Homo sapiens: one gene and its partner. The protein of the gene in region 1 interacts with the protein of each later gene in a pairwise test. Each region holds a gene or a part of one and is shown on either strand. Other genes may lie near its edges. The genes, in order: HEMGN and DCC.

The links.
Region 2: the proteins of HEMGN (region 1) and DCC interact in a two-hybrid assay, tested with the Homo sapiens proteins (one large-scale study listed by BioGRID and IntAct).

What each region holds. Positions count from the first base shown.
Region 1 is NC_000009.12:97,931,667-97,935,496, forward strand, and holds part of HEMGN (hemogen), read right to left. Parts: intron 1-3,830. UniProt on the Homo sapiens protein: Regulates the proliferation and differentiation of hematopoietic cells. Overexpression block the TPA-induced megakaryocytic differentiation in the K562 cell model. May also prevent cell apoptosis through the activation of the nuclear factor-kappa B (NF-kB).
Region 2 is NC_000018.10:53,207,620-53,211,449, reverse strand, and holds part of DCC (netrin receptor DCC), read right to left. Parts: intron 3,772-3,830; coding exon 3,633-3,771; intron 1-3,632. UniProt on the Homo sapiens protein: Receptor for netrin required for axon guidance. Mediates axon attraction of neuronal growth cones in the developing nervous system upon ligand binding. Its association with UNC5 proteins may trigger signaling for axon repulsion.

The DNA of each region.
Region 1 (3,830 bases):
CTGGCACAGCTCCTCGTCTGTGCAGCCTGCAGGTGGATGCTGTATATGGCTTGATTATCAAATACATTATTTTGTGTAAAGAATTCTAAGTTGCTACAGTATATATCAAATGAGGTATACTGTAAGGGGTCAAAAGCTGCAAAAGCACTTCTTGAAGTTAAGAAGTCAGGTAGATAGGCATGAGTGGCCATATTATACCTATTCCTAATTAATAAATTAAAGATCTAGAAGATGAAAGGATATGCATGGTAATTGCAGCCAGTGACAAATTGTTAGGCACTGCAAATACAACCAAATACAGATGGCTAATACAGATGGGCTGGGGGCTGGGGGCTGGGGGAAGTACTATAAATAAGCATTTCATCATTTTTCTAAATCTACTGAAATTCTGTTTCATGCTACCCGCTCCATGGAGCCTTCTCTAAGAGACTACAGGACTAAAATGCTCTCCCAGCTTAGCACTCCTATAGGACTTATTGGGTGTACCATGCTAAAGGCAAGGAATGTAGGCTGCCTCATACTGTAGTTATTTCTGAAGAAACTGTATTTCTTTTAGTAAACATTTTAGACAGTCTTTGGAGATAAAAACCAGTGTTTTTTACATCTTTATAGTGCCCATCGTTCCTTGCATATTTAAAAAAAGTATACCCTGTTCCATTTTTTGTGTATGTTTGAAATTTCCGTTGTAAAAAAGTGTTTTTAAAAGATTACCTCACCAAACACAGTTTGAAGTCAATACCAAAAAAGTATATATGTTCACTTCTAATATGAGGCTATAGAAAAAAAGAAAAAAAGGTATAGATGTAACAGAGCAGTCTAAAATAATATTGAAAATTATATTTAAAAAAGGAAATCTAGGCCGGGTGCGTTGGCTCACGCCTGTAATCCCAGCACTCTGGGAGGCCGAGGCTGGTGGATCACGAGATCAGGAGTTCAAGACCAGCCTGGCCAACATAGTGAAACCCCGTCTCTACTAAAAATACAAAAATTAGCCAGGCATGGTGGTGCGCGTCTGTAATCCCAGCTACTTGGGAGGCTGAGGCAAGAGAATCGCTTGAACCCAGGAGATGGAGGTTGCAGTGAGCTGAGATTGTGCCACTGCACTCCAGCCTGGGTGACAGAATGAGACTCTGTCTCAAAAAAAAAAAAAAAAAGGAAATCTAAAGATGATGGTTATGGCACCTCAGCATTTTGAACTATTACTACAAGTAACCAAGGTGACAAGATAAATCATAAAATTCTGATAAATTTTTTGAAAAAGATATTAATAGTAATCCAAGTTCCTTAGGAAACACATATTTTTTCCTAGATATTAAATCCTAAAGAAGTTGTTATTTAAATCTCTGTATGAGGAGATCTGAGTAATGTAATAGTCCATGTCTTCCCAGGTAGTTTTTCAAAAAATGCAAAAAATACCTATGTGGCCTAAACTTTAGTCTGTACTCTCTCATGGTTGTGGGCAAGTCACTTAACCTCTACATGCCTTGGTTTCCTTGTAAGTGAAATGAGGTAAATAATATCGGCCCAATTTCATGTGGTGGTTATAAGAATTATATATAATAACTTACATGAATGAATTATTCAAATATAAATTAGGACTCATATGAATACAGGAAACACTTATAGTGCTTGTATATGTCAGGCACCGTTTAAATAATTTAGTTATTTTGTTATCTCATATAATCTTCACATCAGTCTATGAAGTAGGTAGTTATTATTTTCATTTTGCAAATGACAAAACTGAAACACAGAGATGTTGAGTAACTTGCCCAACACTTGTATTTGATAATCAAGCCATATACATTATCCACCTGCAGGCTGCACAGATAAGGAGCCGTGCCTGGATTGCAGGTCTAGAAACCCTGAGTATGAGTTTACTCAGGGGTAGTGAAGTAATACACACAGACTAAATGCAAAGAGACTAGTATATAAACCAGAGTGCCAATCTATTCGTTTATAATGAGAATTATTTATTTTCCATAATATTTCCAAGGGCTCTGGCTACCAAGTAGGGGAGCCAGGCTACGAATCTAGTCATTCTGGCTTTAACAGCCAGGCTCATAACCATGCACTCTGCTGCCTCTCTCTGAAACTAATAAAGTTTCACTGTATGGTGTGTTGTAGTGAGAAAAGAGGGCACAGGCCTTAGCATTATAGAGATGTATCACCAGAGCAAGTCCAGCCAGCTGCCAAGAGGCTCACTAAGGTGTTATCCATTTGAGTGAATACCCTCAGCCCAGCAAGCCCAGAAACCTGATTCTGTTAGCACACTGAGACTACCTCCATTTATCAGGGGCAGAGCTCATCAAGCAGATTTAAGGAGACTGACATATAAACCTAAAGACCAATTTTTAAATGAACAGACATACAAAGTCACATAGTAGAAAATACCTGGACTGGCTGGGCACAGTGGCTCACGCCTGTAATCCCAGCACTTTGGGAGGCCAAGGTGGGCGAATCACTTGAAGCCAGGAGTTCCAGACCAGCCTGGCCATCATGGCGAAACCCCGTCTCTACTAAAAAATACAAAAACTAGCTGGGCGTGGTGGCCAGTGCCTGTATTCCCAGCTACTTGGGAGCTGAGGCAGGAGAGTCACTTGAACCTGGGAGGCAGAGGTTGCAGTGAGCCGAGATTGTGCCACTGCACTCCAGCCTGGGCAGCAGAGTGAGACTCTGTCTCAAAACGAGTGAATGAATGAATGAATGAGAGAAAGAGAAAAAAGAAAAGGAGAGGAGAGGGGAGGAGAGAGGAGGGGATGGGGGAGAGGAGGGGGAGGGGAGGGGAGGGGGGAGGGGAGGGGAGGAGAATACCTGGGTTCTGGGCTCCCAAACAAATGCACCGTCTCTGTAGATAAGTACTTGGGAAGCCAAGTAATGATTGGAAGATTGCTTAGTGGTATGGAATTTGGGAGCTAATTGGATAATCTTCAATAGACCTGCCACAGGACCCTAATACAAATATTTCTACTGTAAAATGATACACGTGTTCCTAAAAAAACCTCACTTTCTGCAAAATCATCCTCTATAAAGTTACAGTGGTTATGGAGGTGGGGCAAATAGGCTTGGGACAAATGATTCAAAACCCTTGCAACATTTTAACACTAACTAAAACAATAATTGGTACCAGGAGAGAGAACTTGGATGGTCTAGACAAGCAGTTTACTGTGGCTGGAGGCTGCCTCAGGGGATAGTAAATGCAAATATAGTGTAATTGCAGGCTTGAAGCTGCTGAGACCTGAGCTCTGAGCCAGCGGGGTTGCCGTTAAGTTGGGCACAGGAGGGAAGTGCAAGCTGCCACTTGATGGAGAGCTGCGCAAGGCTGGTGTTGTGCCTCTCTGAGGAGGGAACCCTGGATGCTGGCTGAAAAGAATCCTGCTTATACAACAGCCAAGCTGAAGGCTTTTTCTTTCCAGCTGAAAGCTTTAATTCTCTTCCCACTATTCTGCTTTCTTCTGACTAGGAAAAAATCATGAACCAACACAACCCCCACATTATACTGACATCATTCTCCTATTTATCAATCGTATGTGAACTTGGTGTTATAGAAACATCTGTTGTAGCAGAACAGACAGTGCTCAGTCCACAGCGGGGTTTGGGGATTGGAAAATGCCCTTTCTTAGGAAGAGTGCTTTGCTTAAATTAGTGGTTCTCAACTGGGGATGATTTTGCCTGTCTTCCCCCAACCCCACCCCAGAAGACTTTTGACAATGTTTGGAGACATTTTGTTGTCACAGCTGGGGTGGAAGGTGCTGTTGGCATCTAGAGGCCAGAAAATGCTACAAAACATCTGCAGTGCACAAGCCAGCCCCCCACACAACAGGAAGTTCTCC
Region 2 (3,830 bases), on another chromosome or scaffold:
GCCTGGCCAGTAATTCATATTTAATTATAAGCATTTTCCTTTAAAGGCACTTATCATAGAATAAAAGAAACATGTTTCCACAATGAATCTTGCCTCTGAATTTACTAGCTTATGTGGTCTGGCTCTGCTGCTTACTACCTGTTGTGAACTCTTTCTGACTTAGTTTTGTCATCTGTAAAGTAGGGAAAATTTTAGTAGTATCGTGAGGATGAAAGGTAAAGGCAAAGTACTTGGATCAGGGCCTTCCATTAGTAAGTATTCAAGAAATATTAATAACATTCATAAAAATAATAAGCACATTCTTATGTTGCCTATGAAATCAGGTCCTTCTGCATTTGGACACAGGACAAGCTGGCATGGAAACTTTCAATGGTTCATTCGTTCATAAAAGCTCTTAGTGACTTACCAACTAGTGCAAGAGACAGTATTTTGGAACAAATTGGCAAAATTATTTAGATGATCATATGCTGTATAATCTCAGTGGTGTGAAAAAAAAATGGCTCATTGTAAACCAGTGGTTTTCTAGGTGGAGGAATTTGAATAAAAAATAAGGTTTCTACTCAGAAAATAAAGCCGAGCTAAATTAGAGATGACAGCTCATCTGGACAAAGATCTTTACAAGCATCCCAGTAGAACAGGGAAAAAAAAACATAAAGTAATGAAATTGGAAGAAATGTATTTACACTTAACTTTTGCTTTTTTAAAAATTTTTCTATGTCTCAATATATTTTTTATGGTAAGACTCCTGATATGAAAAGAATTATTATGTTCACTATAATACAGATGCATTTAGACACAGTCATATATTAAATTAATATATCAAATTAGTTCCACAAATGGGAAATCCTAAAGATAAGCCTTTGCATACAGAAATTTGCACAGTTTTGACTGAGCTGTCTAATTAATTCGATAAATATTTACTCAGGAAGAAAACAGAGGTGAATATAACAGCATCCTTCATATTTAGGGGTATTTAATATTAATATAATGAGAAAAAGTGAAGTGCACTTTGGTAGAGATAATGTTTATTAAACACTTAAATGTCATACACTTTGTTAGATGTTTACACAGATCAGCCCATTTAATTTTCACAACATCCACCTGTTACAACATACATAAAGTTAACGAAGAAGAGTGCTCCATGACTGAAGACTGGGAAGCAGGTGACTATTAAATGTGATTAAATACAACTCAATGTGATATATGACCTCAGCATGAACAGCTTCAGGACAGAGGAGGAGACATGAGATTGAAGTAGACAGAAAGGAACTGGATAATAAGGAAATGAAAGCCAAGAGCCACACATTTGTGTTGGACATTAAAAGAGATGGGTTGATTGTAAAAATGAATGCAAACGAGGTCACGGTGTCCACTCTAAGAAGCTTATAAAGTCCTTGCTATCTCCTTTCAGTGCATTTGAGAGAGAGAATTTGGTGTCCTTTGCACAGTGATGTTTATTGGGGTTAGGGTCACGAAATACTTTTTTTATACTGACAGACACTGTCTAAGTCCTAAACATTGTAACATTTCCAGAAGATAATTCTTGGACTAATGAATAATAATCTATCTTTCTCACTTATGACATTTAAAACCAAAGTGGAGAATCAGGCCACAGTATTACAGTTCAGAGTGAATGAAATCTACATAAATTATGTAAAACATTCACTTTCATTTGTTTTTCTTTTATTTTTATAATTATAAGTTGTGAAGTAATTTATTCTACCAATAAATATTCTGTTCTGTCTTCAATAACAGAATTGGATGGATGGGCCTAAGAATTACATTAAAAATGATACCAAAGTGGTATTACGTATAAAATACATTTTAAAGTTGAATTTGCAAATGAGCATTATTCCTGTGTTCTCTTTGTACTGTCCTTAATAATATGCATGCCCTTCCTCATTTCACTGATATTGTGTGAAATGTACACCCAGGTACTTTCCCAGAATAAACAATGATAGATCTGTCAAGAAATCACAAGCTAAAGTCATTTTTTAATTAAAAAGATAAATAATTTATAGAATTAAACACACCAAATGGAAATTGTTGCTGAAAAGAGCTAGCTTGTGGCCTTTTTTAATATTCACAAGGGCCTATCGCTACATTTCTGCACCTGCCTGAGTTTTCGTTGGCCCCACATCATATACTTTGATGTATTTTATTTTCACTTTTTATAAAATTTCCCAACCTTTCATGATCATCTAGCAGTTAGGTTTCTAGTTTCCCCTGGCCATTATTTTGTCAAATTTATTCTCTTTATTAAGATTTGTTCCTCTCTTTTATGGCATTCAAAAACAGGTCTAGCCTGGGCAACAAAGTGAGACCCTGCCTCTGCAAAAAATAAAAATATTAGCTGGGTGCTGTGGCCTATGCCTGTAGTTCCAGCTACTCGGGAGGCTTCGGCAGGAAAATCCCTTGAGGCTGGGTGCAGTGGCTCACGCTTGTAATCCCAGCACTATGTGAGGCCAAGGCGGGTGGATCACTTGAGGTCAGGAGTTCCAGACCAGCCTGCTCAGCATGGTGAAACTCTGTCTCTACTAAAAATACAAAAACTAGCCAGGGGTGGTGGCATGCACCTGTAATCCCAGGTACTCAGGAGGCTGGGGGCAGGAGAATCACTTAAACCCGAGAGGTGGAGGTTGCAGTGAGCTGAGACTGCACCACTGCATGCCAACCTGGGTGACAGAGCGAGACTCCGTTTCCAAAAAAGGAAAAGAAAAGAAAAGCCCTTGAGCCCAGGAATAAAGGGTGTAGTGAAGCACAATTGAGTCACTGCACTTCTTGTCTCAAATGTGTGTGTTTGTGTCTATTCTTCCATTTAGTAGGCAACATACACATTTTTCATGCTCAATTTTAATACTTTAAATTTTAATATCAGCTTATTTGGCCTAATTCCTTTTGATATATTTTCTAATTAAGAGGTAAATATAGGGGGATTGTCTATCATTTACACCTTTAATCATCTGCACACTTTTAGATGGGGGAATAAAACATGCCAATCAAAATTAATCCACACATGCACAAATGTGTATTAGAAAATGTAAAGAAATAAAAAATACACAAAGTTTTAGCTCTTAGTCAATAGTCACATTTTGAGGATTACCTATTAGTATATACTGACTCAAGAGTATATACATATGTATATACATATATACATATATATTTATTTAATTTGGAGAAAGGGTCTTACTCTGTTGCCCAGGCTGGAGTGCAGTAGAACGATCACAGCTTACTGCAGTCTTGAACTCCCAGGCTCAAGTGATCCTCCAGAATGAGCCTCCCAAGTAGCTGGGATCGCAGGTGCATGCCACCATATCCAGTTAATTAAAAAAAAAAAAAAAAAACATTTACAGAGATAGGGTCTCACTATGTTGTTCAGGTGGGTCTTGAACTCCTAGGCTTAACTCATCCTCCTGCCTCAGTCTCTTAAAGTGCTAGGATTACCTGTGTGAACTACCACATCCAGCTGGGAGTATGTATCTTGATAGAAAGTTTACATTTAACTGTAATAGTCCATAAAATTTTAGTCAGGAAGCCTTGAAAATGGAATATATGATATATGTGCAATATCATGTCATTATTGTCAATATTATGTCAAATATGTAAAAGGAGTTTCACTGTTTTTAACTTACCGTCAGAAAGTGTAACCACTGTTATATCATCAGTAGAGACGCCCGGACCATAGCGATTATAAGCTAAGAATCGAAGACTATATTCGGTGAATTTTTTCAGGCCTTCCAGTTTATAAGATAGTCCATCAACCTCTATATTCTGGAGACATAAAACACCAAAACTGTTATCAAGGAAGCACATTAAAGTAGAAATGGCAC